Regions from separate parts of the Homo sapiens genome. Here all the other regions are linked to region 4. Evidence: fine-mapped expression QTL. A gene starts in region 4. Each other region holds a variant in brackets. All regions are shown on one strand. Distances are between the middles of the regions.

What was found. PIP is the estimated chance that this variant, and not a neighbour inherited with it, causes the effect. A credible set is the group of variants that fine-mapping cannot tell apart.
Region 1: its variant is the best candidate, but not a certain one, in a credible set for the expression of SMOC1 in atrial appendage (GTEx, PIP 0.83).
Region 2: its variant is the best candidate, but not a certain one, in a credible set for the expression of SMOC1 in atrial appendage (GTEx, PIP 0.65).
Region 3: its variant is the best candidate, but not a certain one, in a credible set for the expression of SMOC1 in tibial artery (GTEx, PIP 0.66).

What each region holds. Positions count from the first base shown.
Region 1 is chr14:69,985,781-69,993,812 of GRCh38, reverse strand. It overlaps SMOC1 (SPARC related modular calcium binding 1), which reads right to left. Exons shown (of 12, transcript NM_001034852.3): 6 at 1,340-1,396. Among named protein-coding and RNA genes, the nearest start is that of SNORD169, 12 kb to the right of the region's middle. RefSeq lists an enhancer at 5,952-6,453. The variant C/A (reference allele first, on the strand shown) is at 3,866.
Region 2 is chr14:70,669,353-70,677,384 of GRCh38, reverse strand. It overlaps TTC9 (tetratricopeptide repeat domain 9), which reads right to left. Exons shown (of 3, transcript NM_015351.2): 3 at 2,019-6,309. The coding sequence ends at 6,230. Among named protein-coding and RNA genes, the nearest start is that of LINC01269, 25 kb to the left of the region's middle. The variant T/C (reference allele first, on the strand shown) is at 3,950.
Region 3 is chr14:69,908,065-69,916,096 of GRCh38, reverse strand. All of the region lies in intron 1 of SMOC1 (SPARC related modular calcium binding 1), which reads right to left. Among named protein-coding and RNA genes, the nearest start is that of SMOC1, 33 kb to the right of the region's middle. The variant G/C (reference allele first, on the strand shown) is at 3,599.
Region 4 is chr14:69,873,636-69,881,667 of GRCh38, reverse strand. It overlaps SMOC1 (SPARC related modular calcium binding 1), which reads right to left and starts at 2,252. Exons shown (of 12, transcript NM_001034852.3): 1 at 1,891-2,252. The coding sequence starts at 1,989. RefSeq lists a silencer at 2,065-2,154.

The sequences.
Region 1 (8,032 bases), 110 kb before region 4:
TACTGTGGAGTGACCTTCAATGAGGGTATTGGGGAGGTCTCCCAAGATGAGACAGTCTCCATCCCTCACCTGACCCCCCAGGGTCCCAGACTTGTCAATGATCCAGGACCTTTGTGGATCACAGAGACATCTACATCTAAACTTTTAGACATGAACATACAAAACTTCCCATAAGTGAGCTGATTGCAAAGGATATTGCACATTTCAATCCTCCTCAGAGCTAAGCTTGTGCTAGGGACATCCATAGCCACAGTGTTAACCCGTGGCATGATTTCTTTTTATTCTTCTGTCACTCTGCCCAGTCTCATGATCCAGGGCTGGATACGCTTAGCTAGGAGCTGCTCAAAGTTTGCTACATATTGCACTAAAATCCCAACCTTATTGTCATACTTTAGAGACTTCACTCTGCCAAACTTCCAGTTCCTCATCAAGGGAATATGGAGTACTCAGTACAGTAAACTTTAGAGTACAGGCCCTGAGCACCTCCAACTTGAACCTCCTGCACCCCGCACTCCTATCCTCTCTCTATGCCTCCAGAGACTTCCAGCCTCTCTTTTGCCACCAGCCACAATTTCTCTTGACCTAGAATTTCTCCTCTCCAAAATGTCCTGCCTCAACTCTCAACGTCCCTACAACCTACACAAACCAGTCCCACTGGCCAATCTCCTTCCTGCAACTTTCCTCACTGTATCCCATCCCTACCTCATTCCCCTCTTGTCCATGCCAGCACCCTGCCTGGAACACTCAGACTCCTCCCCACCACTTTCAAGATCCAGCTCAAGTCCTGGCTCTTCACAAAAGCTTTTCCCAGACCATGGTGATCTCTTTCTTCCATAAATGTCTATGACAATAAGAACGGAGACCCCGTAATTTAAAGCACTCTAAGAGTTGCAGCTGTCTTGAGAGCAAAGGTTTACATCTCCAAACCTCCTTTTCATCCCCCAGAGGGGCTCACACAGTGCCAGGCACAGAGTGGACACTTGCAAGTGCCAATTAATTTACTGAAGGGACACTGCCGGCCTGACTATCTTTCTCAGCTGTGATTCCTGGGTCTTGGCAGCTCCAAGGGTCTGTCCAGGCTGTGTTATTGTTGGACACCAGGAGACAGGCAGGAAGCCTGAGAGAACAGAGGGCCCTTCCAGAAGTGGAGAGTGTACCAATTCCTGGGAGGATCTGCATTTTTTAAAAAGGTTAAAACAACCCAGCTTACACTGGGAAAAATTGAAATTAAAAAAGAAAATAATAATAATAAAACTTAAACAAACATCCAACGTTAAGACTTTTCCCAAACCTGAAAATGAGTGGGAGAATGAACATCAGAAGTAATGCAAGATCTTACCATCTCCATCGAACACCGGCTGGGTCTCCATCGTGGGTGTCGGCTTAGACCCGTCATCTGAATTGAGGGTTAAAAAGAATCGAAAGGAGACTACCATTATTGAGGTAAATACTATCTACTCTCCAGCACTGTTGAATGGTTGGGGTTTGTACAAGGCCCGGCCAAGTCCCAGTGAAGAGAACAAAGAAAAAGAAACAAAAGAAGAAAAGGGCAAGAAGGAAAAGAGAACCATAGAGAGACAAAACAACAAAACAAATCCAGGTGTGTGTTCACCATCCCAAGGCATGGACGAAAGGAGTTAAAGCTTCGTGGCTTTGGGGGACCGTTTCTCACAAATCTGAGGATACCAGTATGACTCTGCTGGCCCTTGTTCCCGCAGGAAAACTGGGAGGCAGTATCTCCCCCTCAGCCCTGAGTTATGGCCAGGCATGTTAGCATAAGGTTGGCAATCCTTATGGCATCAAATTATGGTGTCCCCAGCTCCTTTCCTGCCCTAAAGCTACCAGCTCAGTGGCCCTGATTAAAGAGCTCAAGGAAAACAAGAGACCTGTGTGCCATTCCCTTCCAATCTCCTCACTGTTTCTCCACTTTCACCTAAAACAGATAAGAAGGCAGGAAGAACCATTCTCTCTCCAGCACACGGAACTGAAGAGAATCAGGAATCATTAGAATGCTTCTAACTGTGAAATAGCAAACACCCCAATTCCCAATAAGAGGGAGGGCAAGCAAAATGGGAGAGGACATGGGACTTTGCAGAAATCACCCTAGACTTGCTTTGAAATTTCTAACATAGATGATTGGAGCAGGGAGCTCCCAGTAACAAAGTCCTAATGCTTATCATTCTAATAGTGTTGGCAGTCCTCTCTGCACAGCAAGAACCTCTGCAGGTCAGGAGTTAGTGCAGACTTTATTTACCTTCCAGGACTCTGAGTTCTTTCATCAGGGCCCCAAAAACCTTAGCTTATAGCAGTATTTCTCAACCTTTTTTCCATTATCACTCATCTAAGGAGCATTTTTAGGTAATTTTTTCCTAATCATCTCCCTAATAAAATTTTAATAATGCAAAGAAACAGTATATATATTTGTGCTTCATATGTAAAATGAGTGTTTTTCATCCCCTAAGAAATAATTTTACCCCCTTAGAGAAGGCTTGGAGAGGGTATCTTTGTCCCTCTTAAGGTTATATAGTTTAAGAGATTTCTCTCCACGGGGGGAGGGAAGGAGAGCACTGTTGTCTCAGGCGGTTTGATGATTACACCATCCCTCTCTTCTCAAGACCCCTTAGAGGTCTTTTAGGATGGAACACTATATTCTCTGAGCATTAACTATTTATGCAGATTGCAAGTTCTCAGATAGTCTCTGTGACGCCAGTCAGATCATCAATAATAACAACCCTCTACCATTTGGAGCTCTCAGTACCTTTGGCCGACTTTCGTGCATCTTATTGGGGGAGGGAGAGAGAATACAGAGTCCTGATCTCCTTTTTGCATCAACATCTCACCCTTGGGAGCTTAAGATTCAAGAGCTATGGAGACTCTAACCCTTGTTAGAGGCTGAGGCCAGCAGCTGAGCTGACAGTCGGGTGACACCTGACCCTGATATTATTCTCATGTACTGACACCAAGACCCAACTCTTGCAGAAGCCAAAGTGATCCTGAATTATCTGACAATCATCCCAAGAAATGAGATGTAGCAGGAAGAGAAGAGTATCTATGCTGGATATACTATTTGCCTCAAACTGGAGTCCAAAACAGGCATCTTTTGATGCCAAACTGTGTGAGTTTGATCTGGAAGTCTTTGAGGGAGAATAAACACAGAACAGAGCCACACAATGTCATTTTTTTAATAGCATCACTTCCCCTGACTCTATTAACACCTCTTTCCATTGAATTCAATGAGCCACTGAATTGAGTCTTTTGGCAGCTGCAATGCACATTTGGTTGTGCCTGCCAGATACAGAGTTCACAGTCTAAATAGTCCAGCACAGTGTGCTCAGCCCTTCCACACAGGGTGGCTTCATTTTAGGAGTCTTACAGGCTAACAAAGGGAAAGTGAAAAATCAAACATTCCAGGAGGGATGATAATGAGAACTCAAGTGCATATGGCTTATGTAATATTTTAATATTCAATGTAGGTATGAAAATCCTCCCATATTACAAGAACTGTATCTCTTCTCTGGAGCAAGACAACTGAAAACATTCTGTTTATTTCTCCCATCATCCAGATGAAAATCTTGGACTGCCCATCGGGCCCAGCCATCAGCAAAGAAGGTCTGCACTCAAGGAGGGCAAAAAGGTTTTTTGGGGAAGCTTTGCCCTTTTGCAGGTCAAGGACCTCCACAGATTTCCCAGATGTAGTCAGAGAAGCCCATGAGGCATAAAGCCACTTGCAGGGAAGGAATCTTCCTGCAGGGTAGGGTCACTGAGGGTGAAGAGATACAGCTGCTCTGCCACGGGGAGGTCCTAAATGGAAATCTTTATGAAGTGAGAAAAGACAAGATGCCCTGCTGCCAGGAATCACCTGTGA[C/A]ATCCAGCATGCTCAAAGGCTGGGAAGCCAAGCCAAAGCGAACAGCACCCTCTAACCATCATCTCCGGGCACCTGGGCTCCTGGCTTCTGACCCAGCAAATAAGAGCACCTCTTCTACCAAACACAAGTCCAAGGCCTAGGTCCAAGGTCTACATCAGTTCTGCTTCCAGGCAAGCCCTGGAGCAACACCAGGCCCCACACTGGGCACTGGGGAGAGAACAAGGTTTCTATATGTGCTCCTGCCTCCCAGTCTTAAGGGGAGTCACACTCCAAATCCCCCTTCACATGTAATAAGTTTACTCTGGATAAGTTGAGCCCCTCCTTTTACTTCTCTGGATAGCAATATCCTCTTCTAAAATTGAAGGATACCTGCCTACAAAATCTCGGGACACTTTTTTGTGTAGGTGTAAAACACTTTAAAGGCCCACTAAAGGGCATCTATAATTCCATGAGTGCAAACCATCTTATTCAACTGCTTACTTTTAAAATTGGGTTTACAAAATTAAAATCCTATCAAAGTTTTTAAATTGAAAATAAGGTAAACCTTACAACTCAATAACAAGCAACCTTATTTAAATATGGACAACATATTTTGACAGACATTTCACCAAAGAAGAGATACAGATGGCTAATAAATACATGAAAAGATATCCAACATTGTTAATCATTAGGAAGGTACAAATTAAAACCACAACAAGATACTTCTAAACAGCCACTAGAATGGCTAAAATAAAAAGATAGACAATATTAAGTGTTGGTAAGGATGTGGAGGAAATGGAACCCTTGTTCATTGCTGGTGAGAATGTACAACTGGGCATCCACTTTGGAAAGGAGTTTGACAGTCTCTTTAAAAAGCTAAACATCAACTTTTAACCCCAAAATTCCACTCCTAGAATCCATCTAGGAGAATAAAAACATGCCCACACAAAGACATGTATAGAAATATTCACTGCAGCATTATTCATTAAAGCTTCAAACTGAAAACAATCCAAATGTCTGTCCACTGGTGAATAAATTGTGATATATCCATATGATAGCATACTATTCAGCAATTAAAAGGAATGAATTACTAATACATGTGACAATGTAGATGAAGAATCTCAAAGACATTATGCTAAGTATAAAAATCCAGATGTAAATACCACATGTTGTATGATTCCATCTATATGAAATGTCTAGTAAGGCTACATCTATAGACACAGAAAACAGATCTGGGGGTGCCTAGAGCTACAGGTAGGAGTAGAAAATACCTGTGAATGGGTTCAAGGTTGCTTTTTGGGGTGATGGAGATGTTCTCTGGTGACAATTGTACAACACTATGAATTTATTAAATTCATTGGGTTGTATATTTACAATGAGTGAATTTTACGGTATGTAAACTATACTTCAATAAAGCTGTTAAAACAAAAAGGGAGGTGTGCCCAAGTCATCACAAATAAATCATGAGGCAGCAGCAGCTAGATTATTTGAGTGGTCCTTAATTTGGGGGAAGACTCTTCCACTGTTTTAAAGAAAAATGTATGTGAATCTGTATATGCATGTGATGATGTTTGGTGTATATTCTTCGTGATTCTTTTGGACCTCAGAGAGTATTTCTCTTTAATACTATAATAATCTTCCATATTAAAAGGAAGAGGATAAACACTGAAAAAAAAAAAGCCAATTCAAAGATTATCCTTTTTCTTACAGGGAGGGAGAAAAAAGGCAAATTTGGAAACATGAAAACAAACAACAAATAAGGCAAACTGAAAGAATTCTCAAGGAGGATGTCAAGAGCAACGGTAATAATAGTATTACCACACTTTGCAACACTCAGTTCCTGGCAGGTAGCTTTCCTCATCTATTCTCACCACCAGCCAGGGCGGAGGGAGAAACCAGGCAGATAAAAAGAGAATTGAATAACAATGCAAGTAAGTGATTTGATCAAGGTCCCAGAGGCAGCAAGCAGCTTTGGAAACTGCCTGGTCCCAGAGCCCTGGCATTTGGCCTCCGGAGATTCCCCAACCCCCAGTCACGCCTTGTCCTTGCAGGTGCAGCCCCAGAAAGTTGCAGCCCCCGCATGGGCTCTGTGAGCCTATACAGACAGTGGGTTTGTGTGACAGCACAATTCCTTGCCCTGCGAGAAGGCCTGGCCCACGCACAGACAGCTGGAAGTCACTTCGACCCCCGATGACACCGTTCAAAGCCTCCTCTGTTTGGCTTTTTGATTCCTGATTGACATTCGCTGGCGAGGAGAGATAAATGCCAGGCTGAGGACAATGTTGATCCGCTCAGACTATTCTCAGGGAAAGACTTTTCAGAATAACAAACAAAACAAAACAAAAACCCAAAAACATTGGTGTGCTTAAGGGACTGAATAGAGCCCAAGAGGTCCAGGGACGCAGGGCCAGGCCTTTCAAGGGGCTGGCAAGTCCATTGAGGAGTTAATTGTTTGGGTGTACAATGAGTTTATTCTGGCCACATACAAAGAGCTTTCTCTTCCAGGTCCTTCAAAAGCAAATGTCTCAAAGGAGCCAGAGGAGGAATCTGTATTAATGGCATCTCTTGGGGTCTCTGAGACTGAGAAGCCTTGGAGAATGAGGAAAAAAGAAACCACTTCCCCCATTCTGAGATGTGGAAGGTCTGTCAACAATCCCAAGTCCCCTTCAATTCTTGGGCTCTCCCCAAACCATGTCCATCACTGGTGACCCTCCCTCATATTCTTTCAGGCTGCCATTGTCCATCTTTGAAAAAGACATGGAGATAAACTTCAGCCTGGTAGAAGTGCTCGAAGGTTCTTGCTTTGAAGGGACCACATTTATGCCAGAGCCACCATCCCCCTCCACATGTGATTCTGAGGCTCAATGTGGAAGTGGAGACAACTCATTCTGGGCATCGTAAGGAGACAACAGTGTCTGTTTGCAAAAGTCCCTTAAGAGCCTGCCCTGAATCAGACCCAGAGGAGGATGGAATGCTAGGCCACCTCAACATTTCCTGAGATGCATGCGCCATGACCAGCGAGGCTCAGAAATGGATGGTGAACTGTCCTGATTCTGATCTGTAGGAGCAGAAGTGGTCGGGCATGTCAGGTTCTTTCCAAAGCAGGAGGTCAGTGTTTTATATTCCGTATACCTACCTGCATGTTCCCTCCCAAAAGAAGTGAAAACAAGCTGAAAGCTGCCTTTTTGCAGGCAGTTCTCACATCCTTGAGCTGAAGAAGAGCAAAAACAGAAGGCTGGGGAAAAGGCAAACTGGGGACAGAAGAGGAAGAGGAAGCACCGGCAGCAGAGGAGCCTGGTCAGGGCTGGGTTCACACAGAAGACTCGGCTAATGTTTTTTTAACTTTTTATTTTGAAATGATTATCGATTCACAGGAAGTTGCAAAGATAATACAGAGAGGTCCTGTGTACCCCTCACCCAGTTTCCCCCAATGGTAACGGCTTTATAGTTAGCATAATGATATGGGTAAGCTCTTTAATTATCTGGGTGGCATAATTAGTACAAAATCAAAATCGGGACACTGATATTCATATAATCCATGGACCTTATTCAGATTCTACCAGTTTTAAATGCACTCATTTGTGTGTATCGTTCTCTGCAATTTTATCCACGTGTAGACTCAGGTAACCACCACCACCATCAGCCTAGAACTATTCCATCAGCACAAAGATCTCCCTTGTGCCACTTTTACTGTCACACTTTCCCTCCTCCACCCCATTCCTCACACCTGGCAACCACTAATCTGTTCTCCATCTCTATAATGCTGTCATTTCTAGACTGTTATATAAATGGAATCATGCAATATACAACCTTTTGAAATGGGCTCTTTTCATGTTGCATAATGCCCTTGAGATCCACTCAAGTTGTGGTTGCATATATCAACAATTCATTCCTTTTTATTGCTGAGTATTTTTCCAGGGTATAGATGGATAGGGGATCCCACCTTACTCACAGCAGATACCTTCCAAGACCCCCAGTGGATGCCTTCAACCGCGGATAGAACCGAACCCTATACATCCTGTTTTTTCCCCATACATACCTATGATAAAGGTTTATTTATAAATTAGGCACGGTATAGATGAACAATAATAACTAATAATAAAATAGAATAATTATAACAATGTACTTTTATAAAAGTTATATGAATATTGTCTATCTCTCAGAATATCTGATTGTACTGTATTCATC
Region 2 (8,032 bases), 800 kb before region 4:
TCAGAGGCTGCTGGCCTCTGGGTGGACTGTTAGGAAGAAAACAGCGTTTATCGTTGGATGTGACTGGAAGACAGCTGATTCCGAGAACCATCAGAATTATTCCAACTGATTGCTGTGGAGTCTCTTTGAAGCCTGGAGAGGCATGGGTTGGAGTATGAAGCTTCCTCTGTCTTTCTACTCCCCACCTCCAAGTACTTGTCCTGCTTGAGCAGAGAGTAACCCAAGGGCCTCTTGGAAGGTTCCCTTCCTTCTACAGTGCAGAGAGGGGGAATGTGGAAGGTGAACGTGCAAGTATTAGCAGCCACACTATAAACAAGGAAACTGAGGCCAGGGAGGGTGGGGGAAGGAAATAAATGTTTTTTCTGTGCTTATTCTGTGCCAGCCACTGAGCTGGGAGATACTTATTTCTTAGTCCTCCCCACACCCTTTTAAGGGATAAAACATTTTCCCCCAGCCTGGCCAAATTGGTGAAAGCCTCTCTCTACTAAAAATACAAAAATTAGCTGGGCATGGTAGTGTGTGCCTGTAATCCCAGCTACTCGGGAGGCTGAGGCAGGAGAATTGCTTGAACCTGGGAGGCGGAGGTTGCGGTGAACGGAGACCGTGCCACCACACTCCACCCTGGGCGACAGAGCAAGACTCCATCTTGGAACACAAAACAAAACATTCTCCCCATGTATGGGCGAGGAAAATGAGGGTCAGAAAAGTTAAACAACTGCACCAGGGTCACACAGCTAGCAGATGTTAAAGCTGGTATTCAAACAAAACTCCGTCTATCCACTGTAAAATGTCACATGGTTTGAAATAGTGGAGCGGCGTGCTCTCAAGTTTGCTGGGCCTCAGCAGTGGCCCCTTAACCTGGCTGGTTACCTCATGGCATTCAAAAAACTATCCTGAACACTATTCCTGTGAATCTGATTCAATGGGTCTAAGGTAGAGCCTGAGATTATGTATTTTTAAAAAGCTCTTCCTAGTGATTCTGATATCTTGGAAAGCACAGGGCTGCAGCACGTGGCTTCTCTTCTGACCCAAGTCTCTTAGGAGATCTTCATTTCTCAGAAGCACAGATCTAGTTCAGCCCTGCATTTACCTCCAGTAACATTTGCCACTGAACCCATTATTCCTTCATTCCAGGCTGAATGCTCAACGTTTTCTGAGTACCTACAATGTGCCAGGCATGGTGCTCAACATTCTGGCTGCAAAGATGAATATACCACAGTGCCTGCCTTGAGGGACACCCAGGGCGTGCGGGAGATGAATGTAAACTAGAAACTCTAATTTGTTGTAGCAAAAGCTAGGCTGAGGTAGGCTTGTGTTGCTTTAAGAATTCAGACTAAAGGACCAAGGAAGGCTTTCTAGCAGTGATCCTGAATGAAGGCCTATAGGAGTTAGCAAGGTAGAGAGGACTGAAGGGCTAAGGAATAGCCGATGAGGCAGAGGGAAGGAATAGCGTGGAAAGGCCCAGAGACCCAGCACAATGGCTCAGGGCGGCAAAAGAAGCTGCACAGCAGTGGAATGTAGGATACTTTGGGAAGAGGACCAGGAAGTGAGGCTGGAAAGATCAGTGGAGACAAAATATGAAAGACCGTGTGTGTTGTTAAGGAGTTTGGACTTTATCCTAGAAGTGACGAGGCGCTACTAAAGATTTTATTTTTCCTGAGACAGAGTCTCACTCTGTTGCCCAGGCTGGAGTGGAGTGGCGTGATCTCGGCTCACTGCAACCTCTGATGCCCAGGTTCAAGTGATTCTCCTGCCTCAGCCTCCTGAGTAGCTGGGATTACAGGTGCCTGCCACCGCACCCAGCTGATTTTTTTGTGGGTGTGTATTTTAGAAGAGATGGGGTTTCACCATCTTGGCCAGGCTGGTCTTGAACTCCTGACCTTGTGATCCACCCACCTTGGCCTCCCAAAGTGCTGAAGTTGTGGAGTGACATGGTCAAACTGTGTTTTGGAAGGGTCACTCTGATAGAAATAAGAGAATGAACTGTAGGCAGGAGAAGCTGGCAACAGAGGAACGAATTAATTGCAGAATTAAGAATTTATGTATGTCAAAAAGCACCATAAACAAAATTTGAAAGCAAAGCACTTGGAAAGCATATTTGCAGCATTTCTTGACAAAAATAATATTCTTAATAAAATTACAAATTGATAATAAACATACCAATATCAAATAAATAGAAAATTCACAAAGAAAGAAGTACAAATGGTCAATAAGCATATGAAAATGTTATTCGCGAAGAATCAAAGAAAGTTAAAATAACATTGACATACTATTATCCCAGCTACCAAATTGGGAAAGATTTGATAAGTGATGATACCTAGTGTTAGGGTGCAGGAAACAGGGTACTCTCTAGGATCCAAATAGGAGAGCGTTTTGGTACAAACTTTCTGGAGGGTGGTTGGCAACATGTATCAAAATTCTTAAAAATAGCCAAGCAAGTCTCTTCTTGGAGTTTATCCTAAGGAAATCGTTATAGACATGTGCAAAATTTAGCTACAAGAATGTCAGTTGCAACACTATTTACAATGAAGATTGGGAACAAATGAAATAATCACTATTTGAGGATTGATGATAAAAAAAGGGTCCATCCATACAATGAAGATGCTGTTGAGAAAGTTTGATATGCCGAAAATGTTCGTGATATTATTAAGTGAAGGAACAGAAGGAGCAAAAAACAAAAAGTGTCCAATATGCTGCCATTTGTGTGTGATAAAAGAATATATACATATGTTTGACAATGTGTAAGCATCTCCACTAGGATGCAAAATAAATTAGAGGGAAACTAGATGCTGGCAGACGGGGTAGGGAGAAGATTTACTTCTGACTACAGAGCAGTTTGTACTTTTTGAATTTTGTATCTGTGTAGGATTACATATTCTAAAATATAAATACACACTTGAAAAGTTATTAAAGAGTATATTCAGTGTATCCAGTTTTTGTTTAAAAAAATCCACAACTGTGTGTGCGTGTGTACATTTACACCAAAAAGAACTAAAAGGTATATTCAAAAGAATACACGTTTGTCTTGGGTGGTAAGCTTATGGATTGGATTTTGTCCTTTTTTTCCTAAAACTTCTACAATACACACATGATGCTTTCACAATAATTAAAAAGCGTTAGTTTTTCCCCCAAAGAGTCCATCGCAAAAGTCCAGGCAGGGGATGACAGTGCAGGTCAGATGCCTGATTAGTACTCCAGCTACATAGGTCAGCAGTGACATCCGCAACGTACGGAATTAAATCACAGTTCTTGTTTTGGGGAGGGATGAGGAGAAGGAAGCTGAAGATTTGGTAGGGAGAATGAACCTGGTTTTGTGCTCTAAAGCCTTTGTTGGACAAATGCACAGAAAATTCAGCCCTATCACCCCAAACATCAACCAATACCCCAGGTAGCTTTTTCTCTTTGGGATTATTTAACTTCAGGTCACAGTGAATGGAGTTCCAGTAAGCCTGTATATCTAAGTCACCAAACAAGCAGATGACCTGGACGCTTGTTCTATGAGGTTCTGAGAGGCTGTCTTCATTTCGTTCTGGTTTTTGATCTTTCTACATGGGATGGCTACAATCATATCCTGGATTGTCCAGCCCTGCCCCAGCACACTCATGTAAACAAGACCTCTCTCCTGTCTCTGCATAGGGAATAATTACTCGGAGTCCTTCCTGACGCACAAAGACCAAGGGAAGACCCTGGCAGTTTGAACTCATTCTCCAGGTGACCTCTACCCTTCTCTTCATCCTTCAGATCCTAACAAACCATCTGCCAAATCACAAACGTTCTAAGTTGGAGGCTTGGGAATGGGGGTGGGGGTGGGGGTCGGGGCGTTTGAACACATTCCCGTGTGGGGCCATAGGGTAGTTTTGGGTTAGGGTCATGTAAAGCCAGCTAGGAGGAAGAGGAAAGACAGCATAATATAGTAGGGATTGGGGAGAATGTGGCAGCTGAAATAGCT[T/C]CTTCCTTTTCCTCTTCTCCAGAGAGTGAGCTCTAGGTGAGTAATGGCAGGCCCCTCAATATTTCTAGCACCTTCCTGTAGCCCCCGTTGAAAGCCTTTGGGGAACTATGTGAATATAACTTACGCTGCTCTCTTCTGGGCCCCTCGGCTGTGATTGGATCCTGCCGTGGTGGGGCATCTGCTTACATAATTAACCCATATTTAACTTTGTGTTTCCTTTCGGTCTTAATTGTGACCCTTTCCCAATGCTGGGGATGGGTGATGAATGCTAGGTGAGTTGTTGAGATACATGCTGGCTCCATCAGTAAGTAGAATGAGCAATACACAGACATAACTATTGGACCTCAGCTGCCTTTTTCTGACCTGTCACTGCTCTGACTACTAGGGATTCTGGCCTCTGGTCTTTTGGGGCCCTTGAGTAAATACATAAGGAGGCCATGTACTATCACTGACATCATGAACACTTTTCAGGTTAATACATATTGTCCTGTTCTCAAATGGTTATAATTGCCCAATATTATACTTACAGAGAGGCAACTAAGTATAGCATAGATACTAGCCAGAGCTCTGGAGTCAGGCAGGCCTGGTTCAAATCCTAGCTATGCCACTAAAGGCCATGCAACCTTGGGATAATTAATTTTTCTGGTTTTCAATATTCTTACCCATCAAATGGGAACAGTATCCCAGAGTAACTGCATGAAAGAAATGAGATTATACATGTAAAGATCTGAAGATAATGCATTTAATAAATCCTAACTATTCACATTATTGCATCTGTATATATTTTAATTTTGTACAACATTGTCTTTTTCACTAGTCACACGAAAAATACATGAAAGTGCTCTGATAATTTTAAAGCATCATATAAATTAACGGTGTCATTGGTAATAATCTCATATGCATTTCTTAACCCTTCCATTTCCTTGAAGACTGAGACGACATCCCATGTCCCACAGCATATTGCACAATGATGGGCAAACAATATGCCCTCAGTAAGTGTTTCTTGTTTGACTGAAGCAACATGGCATAGCATAACGAGCACAGACATCAGGAGACTAGGCTGGGATGAAATTAGTTTAAGGCAGGAGAGCCAGTCTGCAGTCATAATTTATTCATTCAACAAGCATTTGTTGAACACATTCTATGTGCTAGATGTTGAGTTCAGATAATTTCATCAAAAGAAGATTGTACAAGTTCTGACAAAGCCAAGCCCCTGGGCAGTCTCCACAATCCCAGCCCACTCTTAAAAGCACAAAGGCTGTAGCCACCATTGTCTGCCACTGGACAAACGGCCAATTGCTTTGGGGAAAGCCCCATCCTGCCTGGCTGTAAGTAGCTCTGATTGAGGGTTGGAGGAAGGAGTAAAAGTGAGGGAGTGGGCTGCTTCCAACAGAACTGACAGGAACTACTACCTGTTAATTTGTTTTTATTTACACTGAATCAGTCCACAGTTCAATCCCCTAGCCTATACGATGCTCTTTCCCCTGGCCATCATCTTTCCCTCCCTGTCACCTACACAGTCAACCTGTCCCAAACCTTGGCCCACTTCATCCTGCCCTTCTGCGGTCACAGCTGCCTGCTGGGTGGGAGTCCGGGGGAATGGTATGTGTGGTCACCAGAGGGCACTGAGTGGGCTTCAGTGGCATGTGAATCCTGGCAGAGTCTCGGATCCCCGATGGGGAGAGGAGAAAGCACAAGCCAAGACAACGAGTGGGGGAAGGAGGCAGGGGCTAAGTGACGGGTGGGGGGTGGGGGTGGGAACTCCAGTGTACACATTGACAGTCTCTATGTTGGCTTCACCAGCGCTTCTCTGTTTGTCTCGTCCCTGGATTTCTAACAGTTGCCTCGAGATGCTCTGGTTCTGGTCTGTCAGGAAAGTGTGGAAGGATCCAGCCCATGGGCTGTGTGCCTGCTGCCTGTGGGATGGTACACTTGCCAGGCTCCGCCTCTGTCAGAAGCACTGGCCAAAGTCAAAGCCACAACAGCATCCCAGCCCATGAGACTCCTCTCCAGCTGTCCCAGCAGAAGTCAGGCCCCTCTCAGTCGCTGACCTGCTAGAGGAGAGGATGTCTCCATTGTCTGGGCGACCTACCAGATTCCAAATTTGCATCTCTCCTTTTCGTACTGGGAGGAGACAAAGAGCTGGGGTGCAACAGGAGGAAAAATGAGGAGCCAGAAGAAGTGGGGAGAAAGGGACAGAATCCAGGACGGGGCTCTCTGCCAGGGGATGCCTGGAAGTCCCCGGTCAGGCGTGGGCGCAGCTCTGGAGCTGCTTCCTGGTTACATGGCTTCTTTTTCTCTCTGGGAGCATCGGCTGAGTTTCATCTCCGTCAGCTGGATATACCGAATCACGTTGGTGTCTGTGAGGAGAGAAATAAACCTTAGGGAACACCAGGTGAGGGCAACTATCACATTTACAAGGAATTAGCAAAGGCTGTGTCTGCAGACATCCAACAGGCCAGGCTCACTCAACCAAGGTCCCTTCTGCCTATCCATGGTGGCTGAGAGGGCAACTAGATGTCGACCCTCTCCTTCACTGTCTCCCCTTAGCAAATGTGGACAGGTTGGCATGACCCAGGGGATGTGAGAGAGAATGGGTGGGAGAGGAGAGAGAATTTCTCTCCCTCTTTCTATGCAGCAGCGTATCCCAGTGGTTTCCCAGCCGGCGCAGTTAGTTTAGTGAGACCCCAGTTGGAGTTTAACATCAGGCAAGTTGCCAACTTCTCTGAGCCTCCTGTACCATCTGCAAGAAACAACCTCTATTTTTTTTTGTTTGTTTGTTTTTTGAGATGGAGCCTTGTCCTGTTCGCCCAGGCTGGAGTGTAGTGGTGCAATCTTGGTTTGCTGCAAACTCCACCTCTCAAGTTCAAGCAATTCTCCTGCCTCAGTAGCTGGGATTACAGACACATCCCACTGCGCCCAGCTAATTCTTGTATTTTTAGTAGAGACGGGGTTTCATCATATTGGCCAGGCTCGTTTCAAACTCCTGACTTTAGGTGATCTGCCCACCTTGGCCTCCCAAAGTGCTGGGATCAGAGGCGTGAGTGAGCCACCGCGCCCAGCCAACAAGCTCCATTTTTGAATGCCAACCTTGTGCCAGGTTTCTAACCTTCATGATCTCATTTAATCCTCAATACAATCCCGCAAGGTATGTATCCTTCTCCTCACTGTGACAAAATGGAATAGGGACCTAGCGAGATTGAGTCAGATGCCAAGGAGACACATAGTAAATGGTGTGTCTGGCTGCAAAGCCTGTCTCTCCTGAGGACTGTAATACCTGCCTCATGAAATTGCTCTGAAGCCCAAAATAGGTAAGTCTAAAAGTGCTTAAAACAATGATCAACAAATATTAGTCTAATGTAATTTTTTTAAGCTTGAAGAGTTTAAAATGACTTTGCTTTATTGTCTTATTTTTGTCGTTATAAGCAGGGTCAGATGACCACCTCACCAAAACTGGGGCATTTCTTCCCAGTTCCTGTTATTAGTGAGGATGGCATGGCAGGGAACAACTGCTAAGTTCCACACACACCATAACATAAGAGTGACAGGGCTGCCTGGAATAGTTACTTCTGGAAGTAGAAATGAATACTATATCATGCTAAAAAATGCCAGGCGTATCCTCCAGAACCGTGCTGGCAGATAGCAGTGCTCCAGAAAATTCTATTGAATGAGTCCAATGGTTAGTCTTCAAGCTGCTTACAGTTGGTGGAACACGATTTATGTACGGAAAATAAATCAACAACAAGGTGTTCTTTAAAAAGATAAAAAAAGTATACATTTGGACATTTGTGACTTGATTCTAAAGTTTTTTAAAGACTTTTGAAAGGAAGATTGAGTTTAAAAAAAAAAAAAAAAGGCTGGGTGTGGTGGCTCATGCCTGTAATCCCAGCACTTTAGGAGGCCGAGGCAGAAGGATTGCTTGAGCCCAGGAGTTCAAGACCAGCCCTGGCAACATAGCAAGACTTCATCTATACAAAAAATAAAAAACATTAGCCAGGCATGGTAGTGCATGCCTGTAGTCCAAGCTACTGGGGACGCTGAGGTGGGAGGATCATTTGAGCCCAAGAGGCGGAAGTCGTAGTG
Region 3 (8,032 bases), 34 kb before region 4:
TGTTGGTTTCAGATGCCTATCAGACGCCCACATAGAGATGTTGAGCAAGAAGGCAGATATGTAGGTATGGCTATATCCAGACTAGAGACATAGATTTGAGATATGTCTGCATAGAGATGCTATTTAAACCATAAAATTAGAAAAGATAAGCAAAGGAATGAGAATAGGGAGTGTTCCTAGGGCTGAGCCCTGAGGAACTATACCATTTATGGGTGAGAGAGATGAGGGGGAGCCAGGAGATAAGACTAAGTGGGAGCATCTAGGCAAGTAGGAAGAGAACCAAGTAATGTCCCAGAAACTGAGGAAAGTGTCCCATGATGGAGGCAGTGATTAACTGTGTCAAGAGCTGCTAAAAACCCAGTACAATGAGGTCTGAACATTGCCTGTATCTGCACATTAGCCAGCTTGGAGGTCATTGGTGACACTGACAAGTTGTTTCAGGGACGTAATGGAGACACAAGCCTGAGAGGTGTAAGTTCAAGAGAAGACAGAGACAAGGGATCAGGGAAAGCATGTATAGACCATTATAGGGAGTTTTGCTGCCAAGGACAGCAGAGAAATGGGATGCTAATAAAAAGGTGACAAGGTAGAAATTATAATAGGTTTGACAACAAGGAAATGATCTAGTGGGAGGTGGTGGATAGTAACACAGAAGACAGGAGACAGTGGCTACAGTAATGTCCTTGAGTAAGTACGAGATACGACCTAGCACAAAAGTGGAGGGGTTTGCCCCGTACAGATGCAACAGCAGTTCATCCACAGTGACAGGAGGTTCAGGGCACAGACATGGGTAGATTCAGAGATACAGTAATGGTAACCTGAAGAAACTATCTTCCATTGCCTGGATTTCTCAGTGAAAGAGGAAGCAAGGCTGAGATTGAAGAAGGAGGACCAATGTGTTGGAAGTTTGAGGACAGAATGTGTAAACTGGCCGGGCGCGGTGGCTCAAGCCTGCAATCCCAGCACTTTGGGAGGCTGAAGCGGGTGGATCACCTGAGGTCAGGAGTTGGAGACCAGCCTGGCCAACATGGTGAAACCCCATCTTTACTAAAAATACAAAAAATTAGCCGGGCGTGGTGGTGGGCGGCTATAATTCCAGCTACCTGGGAGGCTGAAGCAGGAGAATCACTTGAACCCAGGAGGCGGAGGTTGCAGCGAGCCAAGATCATGCAATTGCACTCCAGCCTGGGCAACAGAATGAATGAATGAATGAATGAATGAATGAATGAATAAAATAAATTAGAAAAAAGAATACGTAAACTAGTCTTCCAGCACACCAGAAGCATGAATGGACTAGAGGAAGAGAACAGAACTGTCAGGCAGCACTTGGGATAAGTAAGAACAAATTTCTAGTGAGAACAGTCAGAAAGGTCTCATTAATAAGCATTACAGTTGGAAACCAGGTAAGACTTAGAGAGGGACAGATATCTCTGGTCACTGGGCATCTTCTCGCATGATAATGGCTACTTCACCAGACCTAGGCAGCTTTGTGTTTGTTTGTTTGTTTGTTTGTTTGTTTCCTTCCTACTGGTGTCTCCCACTTCTGATCGTGTGGGTGTTAAGGAGCATTTTGAATGTATCACTAAATAGACGAGGCAAGTAACAAGCAAGTCTGACTACTCTGAAGATGCCTTTTAGTTTTTTCAGGGGTCTGCAAACTACTGTGGGGAAATGGGTGCACAAATCTGGCCCAGCTCCCCATTTTTGTAAATATAAGGCTTTATTTACTTTATAACTTAGCTATGCCCATTCTTTTCTTTTACATATTAACTGTGGCTGCTTTTGCACTATAGTGGCAGAGTTTAGTATTTGCAACAGAGACCCTATACCCCACAAAGCCTAAAATATTTACCATCTGCTCCAGAAAAAGTTTACAGACCCCTAATTTATAGCAGTGGTTCTCAAACTTTAGGAGCATCAGAATCACGCCCAGGGCTTGTTAATGACAGCCTGCTGGGCCCCACGCCTAGACTTACTGATTCAAGGGGTCTTTGCTGGGGATCAAATCTGCACATCTTCAAAGTTCCTTGGTGATAATGATGCTGCTGGTCTAGTGACCATACTTTGAGAACCACTGGTTTAGGAAGCTCATTATACCCACATGATCAGGATCTTATTCATGACTCTGTAGTGAACTTGAGCATTTCCACTCTAACTCTAGGTTCCAATGTATAAACAGACAGAAGACATATACTCTAAAAAGCTTCTCTAAACAGGCAAGGAATGAGCCAAGGAGATAAGGAAACATAAACCTCATGTCATTCCTAGGACTCTTAAAACTCTAGCCAGGGTTTTTCTCAGGGCTGCTGTATTGAGCTAGCTTATTAGCAGCCATGAAAAGAAATTGATTTCCTCTTGCTTCAGAAGAGCATCAGAAGTCCCACACTCAAGAGCAAAATCGGATCAACAAATATTTCCACCACTGTGCCCAGGCTGTTTCATTTAAATCAATTCTACCCCACCAACTGCAGGGCCTTCTCCTGACACTCATGTATTCCAAGTAGGTTGGTCAGATTTACCAAATAAAAATACACAATGACTAGTTACTCTGAATTTTAGAAAAGCAAGGAATATATTGTTTAGTATAAGTGTGTCCCATGTACTGTTTGGAACACACACACACGCACACACACACACACACGCCAATTCATTGTTTATCTGAAATTCGAATTTAACTAGGTGCCCTGTATTTTATCTGGCAGCCCTAATGCTAAGGTTCCCTGAAACATCCAATCATATTTTGCTTATTTTGTCTTCCTAGGAAGCTGGTAAGGAGTACATAATTCACATGTATAAGAGTACATAGAACACTGGATATCAGTGGAAAATGTACCATGTTCCCACCCACAGGAGAAGACACACAGTCTAGCAGAGCGGAAAGAGATAGAGGAATGATTTTGTTACCCAGCAAGACAACCCTACAGATAGAACCACACAATCAAGGTGCCAAAGGCTTTGAAGCCATGCAGAGCTGTTTGCCCCCACACTCACTGGCCTTAAGCTATAATCTGGGTTTTTTCTACCCTTCTTCGTTGTCAAACTGTGCATGATCTGTGTCTCCACATGCCAGCCATTAGCCATCGTTCCTCCCACTTTCTAATTTGAAGCTTCCAGTTTTCAAAGGAACTGAAAGTAATAGGCTTATTCAAATTGTGTTTAAAGTGAAAAATAAACAGGCCTGGATATTTCCTAGTGAAATAAGGGAAAGCCTGACAATTTCTCCTAAGCAGAAAGTAGCCACACAAACTGAAGGTTAAAGACAAACTGCAGCCCGAGGAGGGACGCAACCAGGAGGGTGAAAGAATGCAAGGCTCTTCTACCATGGGGAAAAAAAAACTGAGGGCCTTTTCCTTTTCCCTCTCTCCTGCCTGGAAAGCAAGTGTTATGGCTGGAGCTCCAGCAACCATCTTGTGACCTTGAGAAAGCAAGCCACAACTGAAGGATGATGACACAGAAAGTGGGAACCTGGGTCCCTGGCCACCTATCACCTCTGAATAGTCTACAGCTGGAATTCCTTTATGTGAATGATGTATAATTATGCCTTGGCTGGGTACAGTGACTCATGCCTGTAATCTCAGCACTTTAGGAGGCTGAACAC[G/C]GGAGGACTGCATGAGGCCAGTAGTTAGAGACCGGCTCAGGCAACACAGCAAAACACCGGCTCTACAAAAAAAATTTTTTTAATTAGCCAGGTGTAGTGGTGCATGCCTTTAGTCCCAGCTACCCAGGAGGCTGAGACAGGAGGATTGCTTGAAGCCGGGAGTTCAAGGTTGCAGTGAGCTATGATCATGCAACTACACTCCAGCCTGAGTGACAGAGCAAGACCATGCCTAAAATTTAAAGGAAAAGGAAATTGTGCCTCATCTATGGTTGAGCATCTGTTAACAGCAGTCAAAAATACAATTCAATATACTTGTGCTATTTACTTCTTTCAATCCTGACAATAGTGACTATACACATGACTTCATTTGGAAACAACATCCAAAACATTTAAATAGAAATGCAAATTAAAATCATAATGAGATACCACATACTATTAGAATGCTAAAAATAAATATAAATACATAAAAAATATCAACAATACCAAGTGCTGGCTAGAATGCAGAGCAACTAGACCCCTCATACATGGATGGTGGGGATGCGAAATGGTACAGTCACTCTGGAAAACAGTGTGGCAGTTTCTCATAAAGTTAGCCATACATTTACCATATGACCCAGCAATCCCACTCAAAGTATCTACTCAACAGAAGTGAACACTTATGTTCATACAAAAACCTATACTTTAATGTTTCTAACAGCTTTATTCATAATTGCCAAAAACTGGAAACAACCCAAATGTCCTTCATCTGGTGAATGCATGAACAAACCATGATACATTCACATCATGGAATACTACTCAGCCAATAAAAAGGAACTACCAATATATGCAAGAACATGGATGAATGGCAAATGCATTATAGTACATGAAAGCAGCCAGACTCAAAATACTACATAATTCCACTTATGTAACATCCTTTTAGAAAAGGTGAAACTCTAGAGAAAGAAAACAGACCACTGGTTGTCAGGGGTTAAGGTAGAGGGAGTCAATGAAAAGGAGCAAACAAGAGATTTGGGGTGCGGAGCAAGGATGGAACTGCTCTGTGTCTTGATTGTGGTGGTTACACAACTGTATGCATTGTCAAAATTCATGTAACTGTTCACCAAAAACTGTGTTGCATTTACTGTATATTAATTTTGAAATAAACTTTGAAAGTTTAAATATGTGATCTCTGGGCCACATGGCTCTCCTGGGCCTTCTACCTTGGGCCCAGTCTCAGTATCTGCCCTAACCTATTCCATCTCCAGCCTTTACCCCCAGGCACAGTCTGGATATCCCTCCAAAATCTAACACAGTGGTAGACAGAGAGGATTCTCCATCCAAATCCTGGACACATTTTAACACCAGCCACTAACTGGCACTCCTGAAACACAGAACAATAGCTATATTGTATGCTGCGCCATACAGGCCACTGCATAAACATTAGCAACAAGTTCCATGATGACTCCCTGCTACTGGCCTTTGCAGCTGCCCAACTCCCAGGACTTGAGGATCTGCCCAGGGTAACATGGAGTCTGGATACAGTTCAATGTGTCAGTCTTAAATCTATAGCTTATAACAGTCTCCGTCCTTGGAAACTCCCTGGTAATAACACAGACAACAGACCCGCTCCCACTAAAGTCCCCAGTCTCAGGCTTCCAAACAGCTATCCTTGATGGCCTCCCAGAGGACAGCGTACCCTCAAGTCCTGAATATCCAGGGTTAATCCCTACAAGTCAGGCCATGGAAAATCCGTCTGCTCAGGAGGGATCCTGACCAGAGGTGCATTTGACTTGACACCTCCTCGGCATACACACAGTCTGTCTCTCTTGACCCTATGCAGCTGCTGAGCCCAGTTTATTAAAAATTGAGTATCCAAGGCTTATTGCAATAGAGGCATTTTTGTCAACCAAAAAAAAAAAAATCCTTCAAACATAAATCATTTAAGCCACTCTCCACATTCTCTGGCATGAAATAAACAGAGGCTGTCTTATAGGCAGAAGGTGCCAAAGTGGCTTTGCCAGCTTCATGCCTCCTGCCTGGCCATCGTATACTCTACCCTAGATGTTCAAAATATAATAAAAACCTGTCCAGAAAGGTTTCTTCCCAACCGTTTCTTTCCACCCACCTGTGTGGGTGACCTGAATCTTGCTGTGCTGTGCTATTAAGGCAGCATGGTACATTGGAAAGCACAGGACTTTGCAACTAGACAGACTCAGATTCAAATCCAGACTCTTCCCAGGGGCCTAAGTACTTTTCTTGAATTCTCTGCACCTCGGTTTGCTCAATCGTAAGTGGGAATGAAAATCGGTTCCTTTTGCAGAACCAGTTGACAGAAATAAATGAGAGTCTATGTAAAACACCTAACATAGGACTTGATCCATAAAACATGTTCATCATATTAAATCTTTTTTCCCCTAAGTAATTTCCTCTATCTAGAATTGTTCCACATAAACCTGAAAACATAAGCTAACACAGAAAGCAGAGGCAGATGATCTGTCGCCAGGAGGAAACCATCTGCTCCAGGTTAGGAAACATGGTTCAAAGGAGTGAATGACATGTGAGCAAAGAAAAAGAAATTTGGTCTCCAATCACGTCCTCTTGACTAATAATCAATGGAGTCCTGTCCTGGGGAGTGCTAGACCCAAAAACCTCTGCTGTCTCACTCCCCAGTCCTCATTCTCACCCAGTTAGAATTATCTTTGGCCGAAGAATCAATGATAAACAAATTAAATGGCCAATATCCATGAGAATACAGATTTTTTAAGTGTTTTCATTGCTTCTACCTCCTAGGGTACCTTTGGAAAATACCCTGACATTTTCTGGAAGCTTTTTACACAGCATAACATAAAATCTAAGGTTGTTCTCCAATGGAAAATAGCTCTTTACAAAAACAAGAAACTGAGTATTCATTTAAGATACAGTCACAATTTTGAAAAGCTTTTACATAAATCCTTGCCAGAAATCATCCTTTCCCAATGCTACCCTCTGAGCTTAAAGCTGTTTCCTGGCCATGCCAAACTTTCCACCACCTAGACACTGCAGTGGGAACTTCGGAGGTCAGCATTGGATGTACCTGCCTGTAAACTCAAAGTGAAGTCCATCAGAGGAAATGTATTTGCTTAGAGAAGTCTACCACAAAAAATAAGGAAGAGCTCAGCCAATTCCTGCTATCAGACACAGTGTATTACATGTTCAGATCATAAGGCGATATTTCACACGCTGAAGTAAAATAACAAAGCATATAGAGTGAATATGCACCATGATTCAGGGACACCAAAAACTCACATATTTATGATGATATGCTGCTTGGTGCCATCACCAATAGATAATTTTTCAGCACTTGATAAAGTGCTGAGCCCTAGGAGTATGGAGATTTAAGACAGTCCCTGTCTTCTGAGTTCTTTCGGTATAGTTGGAAATATGGAGTCCCTGACCTGAAGGAGTCCACCCATAGTCTAGTGGAGCAAAGAGATAAATCTACAGTGAACGAGCCAATCCATCACCATAGAGGACTTTAGAAGAGGTGAGTATAAAGTGCTGGGAGGCAGAGAAGAAGAAGAGAGGGACATTTCAAAGAAACAATTGGGAGAATACAGTTCTTCCAAATAGACTTGTCTCACACACACACACCCCCACACCCCAGAACCTAAGATTAAAAGAAAAGAGGCAAGGAAAGAGAAACAAAACTGAAAAACAACTCCCCTACACTGTTTTGAGCCCAGCCTGCCCCAAGTCCTAATTGTACCTAAGGAGGTTACCACAATAAACCAGAATGATCTCCTCATCCAGCCTCCAACACTAATAGGAAGACCTGTCAGAGAGCACTGGAAGGCCAGCACGGCACCCACAGATCCCAAGGCACTGTCAAAAGGCCAGATGAGGAAAGCAAAGAGGATGCTGAGGCCCAGGCCCTCCCAGACCTGGCTAGCAGATTCCCAGGGGTCTACTGTGTTCTTTCCTATTCTTCGTCTAAACACAGGCTGTCCTGCGGCCAGAGTCTGTCCGTGTTCCCACTACCCTCCAGCACAGCAGCCACCAAGAAGATGCAAGACCTCATCCAAGGGTGTGAAACATCAGGAAAGGGCCACCCACAGGCTCACTTACCTGCATACAGGTAACTGTGCAATATTATAGTCAGCTTTCACATTTGAAGTGAGCACACACGCAGATTCAGTGGTTGCTTTGGTTTTACTAATTCTATTTATACACACAAGAAATACATGTTCCTTTTACACAAGGGAAATGAAAGTCTCCATAATACTGCCACCCAGAGAAAACACCCAGATCAACGTTTTGGTGTGTACTCTTTTTTCTGTGCATATTGGTCCTTTACAAAATGGGTCTCTACAATATGATGTTTTACAACCTACTTTTTTCCCCACACTGAATCCATTGTGAACTTATACATGTCAAAAACACAACACCATTTTTATAGATTTTTGTGCCATAGATCTG
Region 4 (8,032 bases):
ATGTATTTGAGTGAGAGAGAGAAAGAGGGAAAAAAAGAAAGAAGGAGAGAGAGAGTGTGAAGCAGCTTGGACATACACCAGCCTATTTACAATTCCTGCTTACGTTCCATCACTTCTATCAAATTAATAAACTAGAGGAGCTGGAAGGAACCTAACCACGGTGCCTGATTTCCCCTCAAGTCCCTAGCTTTCCCCTAAAGGTTGCTTCCTCTGATTCCAGGAGGCCAGGAAGGAGAGCCATATGGCTTGAGACTCTAGACAAGCCCAGCAGCAAACAAACGAGCCCCCCACCATTTGTCTCAGGGCCTCTCTCCTTTCGACCCTCCTGTGGGCGGCCATCCAGATTTCAGTCGGGGTGCTCTGGTCTGCATCTCTGTCTTGACTGTTCCTAATTATTGGAGGGAACGCATGGCTCGCCTGACCTCAGAGTTTAAGAGCTCTGAGTCCTAATATCAAACCAAGCAGCTTCATTTAAAAGGCATCCTCATCTGCATCCATAAAAGTCACTCCTGGAGCCCTTACTTGCCCCAGCTTTGGGAATGCCTGCTGTCGAGGATTTATGACACGCCCTGGATCTAATCTGCCACACTTTAACTGCTGCTGTTGCACATCTGGTCATAAAAGCAAGGGCTGGCCCAACACGGGGACAAACACTTTTCTTTCCTAAATGGCTGCAAATCTGATCTCACAGTGATACCTGGGCTTGGATGTAATCAACCCAGCATCTGGGCAGTCATTAAGACTTGTCAAGCATTGCAAGACTTTTTCTCCACACGACAGCTATAAAGATGATTCTCATATAGTAAAAGCTATGAATAAACAACCTGCAATCTGAACAGGTGGTAAAGGGCCAGGCCCAAGGATGTTCAAGAAAGAAAGCACGAGTTGGTTGAGCCAACCTTGTTTTCACAAAGATCCTAGCTACTTTCACATGGACTCTCAGGCTGCCAGTTAAGAGTCAATTGCCCTGACATAAACTGATGCTTGGCCAGAGATTGCCTGGATTAAGTTTGGTCAAAAGAACCACTAGGTCGTTTAATAGTACATGTTTCAAGGCAGTGAAATTCTTTATTAGACCAATTGGTGGGGGGTGTTGCGGGGATAATCTAGACCAGAAATGAACACAATACTGTCGGTTCCAGGAGATTTTACAATGCCCTGGACAATCTGTCCTGTGCACAGAATTGGCAGGTTTCATGTCGTTCAGAAACTCCAATCAGACCAAGGTTCAACGAGTAATTCAACCTCCCAGCACTGAACCCAGGGGGAGAGACCCCTGAACATTGCGCAACTCTCCCCTCCCACCTCTTTACAGTACCCCACCTCTGACCCTCTTCCAGTGCCTGCCCGGCAGGAGGTGACATTAAAATTATCTGCTGTGGGTTTTACGAGCAGTGATCGCTTTTTAAAACAACAACACAAGGTCCTTGTGTGGCTCGCGGGTAACCTAAAACTCTCCAGGCAGAGCTGCACCCGCCCCCGTCCCAACCCCCGCCGCCTGCCAACAACTCCAGCGCGCTGGACCGGGCGCCAGCGTGAGACCACAGGGAAGCCCTGCATGAGCGGAGAGCGAGCTTCTCTCCGACGCAGGAGGCACCTCTGAGGGTCTTGAGCAAAATGCAGGAGAGAAGAGATTGGGAAAGAAAACCCACCAGTGACAGTTCGGGGACAGGGGAGGGATGGTGGGTCAAGAAAGGGAGAGTGGTGGTGGCTCCAATGGGAGAAAAAAAATATTTCAGCAACTTCACCAAGCCCGCAGGGGACCTGGTAGTAGACAGAGGACAACAGGTCTCTGACATCTCTCTTCCCCCTCCTCCTTCCCTCAGGGATGAGGGGGGAAGCAACCTCCCCTCCCTCCGCAGGTGGGCGCAAAGCTGGGGGCGCACTTACCCTGGGGCCTGTGGTGCGGTGGCCGCGAGCAGGGGACAGCTGCACCAACACCAGCAGCAAGTGGGGCGTGAGCAGGCGGGCGCAGCGCGCGGGCAGCATGGTGCCAGCCAGGCTGGGCAGCCGGCAGCGAGCGGGGTTCGCGGGCTCCGCGGGGCGCACAGCGCGCCTCCCTTCCTTCCTTCGCTCGGGGCCCTCGCGGCGGCGGGGAGCGGGCCGTGGTCCTGCGGCGGGGGCTCGCAGAGGCTGCGGTCAGGGGACACAGTCATGAACCGCGCAGGAGGGGAGCTGGAGCGCGAGCGTGTGCTCTGCGCGCGGCGCTAGCTCCGCTCGGCGGGGCCCAGGCGGCAGCAGGTTGGACGCCTGAGCCCGGGCCATGGGAATTCCCGTTATAAACCCCCGGGAGGGGCGGGGCGGAGCACGGCGGGCCTGATTGACGGGCCAAGAGGCCTGTTGAAGCCGACCCTCTGGCAGGTGAAAGCCAATGGGAGAGGGGCAAGAGGAGCCACTCGTGGTCAACCCCCCGCCGAGGAGCTCCGCGGGAGTAGGCCCCGGGAGAGAGTGGGATAAAGAGTAACTTTCTCCCGGCACTCCTGCCCGAGGAAGCCTGAGAGAGCCCCAGCAGCCGGCACCCACCAGAAGGCTCACCTGGCTAATAATAATGCCTTAAGCATGTATATTTCTTAGCTCAAGCTCGTGATTGTCCCAACATCCTGGTGAAGTAGGCAGGGAAAATACTCCTAGCCCCATTTATCAGATGAGAATGCTGTGACACGAAGGCGCCGAGAGATCTGCCTCCCTGCTGCATCTGGGAAGAGTAACTGGGAAGTCGCTGGATGACCCGCACAGGGTGGGCTGTGGCGTTGGAGTGGGGAATGGGAGCATCCACTTCTTTCAAAGACTCTCCCTGGGAGGTGACATCCTGAGTCTCACAGCGGCTGCCCCGGGAGAAGTCGCAAGGGACAAGGTGAAGCGTGTGCTGGGCATTGGCCGCTGGGGAGGGCCTCTTGGGTACGGTAACCCCCTACACACACACACACACACACACACACACACACACACACACACACACACACACACATCTCCCAGCCCTATGGTCCGTATGATCCAGGATTGGAACTCAGGCATCCTAGCTTCCCCCTCTGAACTGGAGGGCAAGGGGCAGCCTCTCTATAGCCCAGCAGCTCTGGAAGAGGCGGGCAGAGAGGCCCTGGTCCCCTGATGGGAGACAAGGAGGAAAAGTATAGATGAGGAGGCGGCAGTCTGAGGATGCAGAGATCCCAGAGATGGGGTAGAACAAGGAGAGGAGATCTCTCCCGGGTGCCCGACCCTCTTGGAGAGGACAGCTCAGCGGAGCTTCAGTCAGATGTTGGGGGGCTCTGCCCAGGGCCATCCCCGGAAGGCCATCTTGGGAATGGTCACAGCTGCATCACACCGGCTCCTCAACAGAGCAAGGTGCTCAGCTGCCTTCAGTGAGACTGACATCTCCAGGAAATCACAGGGAAGGGGGCGGGGGGGCGCAAAATGAAACCCAGAGCGATCTCCTTATGTGGAGAACAACCTTTAGTGCTTACTTCCATCAGTATGGGCTACTTCGCAGGGAGGGATTCTTTTCTATAATTTGATTGTAAGCATCAGTGCCACACTCCCCCTCCCTATCTGGTCTGAGAGGTCCTAAGATTAGCTCTGCTCCCTCAGGGCTTCTCTCCTGGATTCCATGAAACAGCTTCGCACCTGACTCCTGAATTCAGTTTTGCCCTCTCTCCACACTGGCCCCATCCAACCTCCACACGGCAGCCAGTGTGTCTATTCGCTATTTAGAAGCCAGTGATCCTTTTAAGCAGCAAACCGGAACTCACCATTCCCTGCTTAAACGACTTCCCCTCTCCCCATTGCCCTCTGACAAGAAAGCTCAGACTGGATGCTGGAACAATAACAAAGTACTTGTGGTTCTCCAAACAAAAATGAAGCGCACTTCTAAAAGAATGGTCTATCTTTTCCTCCACTGGGAATGAGTGCTTTGGTCAGACAGACTCTGGAGCTGTACAGCAGGGTTCAAATCCTGAGTCTGCCACCTAGTGGTATAAGCTTGAAGAAGTCACTTGACTCATCCAGGGTCCCGTTTTTCTCTCTGTAAAATGGGGATAAAAATAGTATCCCCTGCCATGAGATGTTGTCAAAAGTAAAGGAGATGGAGTCTTTAAAGCCCTTAAAATAATTAAGTGAAAAGTATCACAATATGGCATTTGAAGAGGACAGGACAAATGCCTCATCTCATTTTATCCTCAGAACAATCTTCTGAAATAGGTCAGACATTCCTACTTTACAGGTAGATAAGTGAATACTCCATGAGATTGTGACTTGCCTGGCCTCATTTGGCTGGCAAATGACAGAGCCGAGACGCCGAGACTCAAGGCAAGGTTTTTGGAGTCTAATTCTGCTTCCATCATGTGATGGCTGCAATCTCCAGTCTCAAATCCCATAGGGTTGGACGTTCCTCTGTGCTAATTGGGAATTTCTTCAGTGGCCTACAAGGTGAACTGAGACTGGTGAGCTCCACTGAGCTTCAGAGGAAAAGGATGTAAACATCAGGGGTCAGCCCTTCCTGGAAACAGCCCTTGTGACCTGGCATCCTGGAGTTTGCCCAGCTGGACTTGTGACACTTGTCCAGTACCGTGCCCTGTGCAGCACTGACATCAATATCCATGTGTCCACCTAAGTGTTCACCCTCCAGGGGCTCAACAGGATGGAACTGTTACCATCGGGCTCAGCAGTGTGACAGGCTTTTCCTGACTCTACCACCTGGCTACATTCACCTATCAAGCTGGTCAACTCCTTCCTGTTGCTGGAACTATTGAGAAATCTGCTGGAGTAAGTAAATATGCTTCAGATGGCCCTGAGTATCTGGCAGCACAAAGTGCCCAGGGAAAAAGCATTGCAATAGCCCTTTCCATCCCTAACATCAAATGCTGCTTTCCAGCCAGAAAGCTTATTTCCAAGTGTTCACTGGTCCAAAAATCTACATTATTCTGGATTTCAATCATGTAGTTTAGTTCAAACTATGAGCAACTGCTTTCCAGTTACTCTGCTCAGCAAGTATTTTCTTTCCCTCTGGTTGGCATATGAGGCCTGTTGTAACCATGGCCATCATTCAGATGATGCATTTTCTTCTCCCAACTCCTCCCAAGCCCAGAGAAGGTTAGGAATTCCAGAGAACCACTAGTCCCAAACAGTATCTCTCTGCCAGGCTTAATCTTCTGATCCAAGCAAAAAAAGTAAAATTGACAAGTTTCTTCTTTCCCTGGAGGCCAGACTCATGGTCCAAAAATAATCTGACTATCTTGGCATCTGGTTTGTCCAGTTTCAGTCATACTCCTTGTCTTGTGGGACTTCTATTTGCAATGGGATATTTCAGTAGATGAAAATTAATACTTTATATCACAGATTGAGGTCTGAAGGCCTCAAATATTTAGTACTAACTAGAAATGCCAGTTTCAAATATATCTGTGTTTCTGGCCAGGCGCGGTGGCTCACCCCTGTAATCCCAGCACTTTGACAGTCCGATGTGGGCAGATCACTTGAGGCCAGGAGTTTGAGACCAGACTGGCCAACATGGCAAAACCTCATCTCCACTAAAAATAGAAAAATTAGCCGGGTGCAGTGGTGTATGCCTGTAATCCCAGCTACTCGGGAGGCTGATGCAGGAGAATTGCTTGGGAGATGGAGGTTGCAGTGAGTCAAGATCATACCACTGCCCTCCAGCCTGGGCAACAGAGCGAGACTCCATCTAGAAAAAAAGAAATATATATATATATATCTGTGTTTCTATATAATCCAGAGGATTCTTTCCTCATCTCATCTTCAGAATAGAATCTTTTCATCCATTTTTAGTAAGCACTTTGATGCACCTCCTTCTACGCCTTGCACAATGTTCATTATTATGATGGATCTTTGGATGCACACCCAGCCCTCTGAGAGGTTACCATCTAATTTAAGACACAGACCAGAGAGATACCTGGGGACCACATTTAAGAGTAAAGCTGGCCAGGCACGGTGGTTCATGCCTGTAATCCCAGCACTTTGGGAGGCCGAGGAGGGCAGATCACAAGGTCAGGAGATGGAGACCATCCTGGCGAACACGGTGAAACCCCATCTCTACTAAAAATACAAAAAATTAGCCAGGTGTGGTGGCGGGCGCCTGTAGTCCCAGCTACTGGGGAGGCTGAGGCAGGAGAATGGCGTGAACCTGGGAGGCGGAGCTGGCAGTGAGCCGAGATTGCGCCACTGCACTCCAGCCTGGGCGACAGAGTGAGACTCCGTCTCAAAAAAAAAAGAGTAAAGCCTGCAGTGTGTTGTAGGAACTCAGAGTGAGATGACCCACTGTAGGCCTAATGGGCAGGAAGGTCTCATGATGGAGGTAGATCCTGAATGAGGCTCTGGAGCAGAGTGCTTCTATAACATAAATATATCCTGATTTATATTTGCTTCATTTGTTACAATAGCTACCAATGGAAAGAGGTACACTGTATCTAAGGTCCAAGACTTTTGTCAAAAACACTAGTGAGCTTAGAAGCTTGAGACATTAAGATTCCTAGGTTCTGCTTTTAGATTTATGACTAACTTGCTGTAACCTTAGCATTAGGCTAAGGTAAGTATTATTAGTCCCAGTGTGCAAATGAAGTTTACCCGCAGACATTTAACCTTACCAAAGTCACTCCTTTAGCTTTAAATACACATGACAAAAATAATTCGAGTGACAAACAATTTAGAAATTTAGCTCTCTCTTTGGTACACAACTCCATTGAAAGTTTCGGGCAGCTTCCTCCAAGCCAGGCTCCTTCTATTATTTCTCTGTCATAATAAGCAGCTCTACCTGGTGGTACAAGATGATTGCTTAAGCCCCAGCCATCATATCTATTTTCCAGCCAACAGGAAGGAAAAAGAGGAAAGAAGAGCATGCTCCTCTTTTTAAGGACACCTCCCAGAAGTCACGTTTCATTTTGTCTCATTGGCTAGAACTTGGTCATATGACCACATTCAGCAAAAAAGGGCTTTAAAAAATGTAATCCTAATTGGAGGTGACCACATGTGTACAGCTAAAAGTCAACGTTTATGTTACTAAGAAAGGATACAATTCTGGGACACAATTAGAAGTAGAGGCCATCCTCATGAGTCGTCCTTGAGTTGCCAAACAAAAGGAGGCCACAGCATTCAAGCTGTGGTTTACCTCTAGTTCTGCAGACCCAGCTCCCTGGTACTCGAAAATATTAATGGCTCTTATGGACTAAATATGTCTCCCTGAAATTCATATGTTGAAAGTCTACCAGCTCCATGTGATGGCCTTGGGAGATGAGTCCTTTGGGAGATAATTATGATTAGATGATGATGATATACAGTCAAAAAAAAAAGGATTAGGTGAGGTCATGAGGGTGAAACCCTCATGAATGAGATTAGTGCCCTTATAAGAGTCACAAGAGAGTTTGCTTTCCCTCTCTGCTCTCTGCCATGTGTAGATACAAAGAGAAGTTGGCCATCTGGCCTCACCAGAACCCAACCATGCCAGCACCCTGATCTTGGACTTCCAGCCTCCAGAACTGTGATAAATACATTTCTATTGTTTGTAAGCCACCCAGTCTATGTTAAGGCAGCCTGAGCTGACTAAGACACTGGCCTTACTGCCAGACACCCAGACTCTTCGTGGCCACAAAAATTTCCTTCTGGTATTTCCCTTAGGCACGTTCAAGTGGGAGGAACTGAGAACATACTGGAATGAAGCTCAAGCCATGTGGTGCCAGGCTGGCAAGAAATAAGCCCCTAAAGAGACCAGTGGTCAGTTATAGTCACTGGGAATAATGCACATCTTGTGAAAATATTTTTGGCAATTGTCTATATTCTTCTGTTTCTATTTATTTCCCCTCCCTCTTCCACCTATAAAGGGATCTTTCTCTTCACCGGGTTGTTTTTCTGTAACCTAGTTCAAAATTAATAATAATAGTTGTAGCAACTATGAGGGCTTAGCAAATGCCAAAAATGAAGACCTTAGTATACACTCTTGCATTTACTCTACAAGGTAGGAAGCATTATTTTCTCCATTTCACTAATGAAGACACTGAGACTATGGGAGGTTAAATAACTCACATAGCCA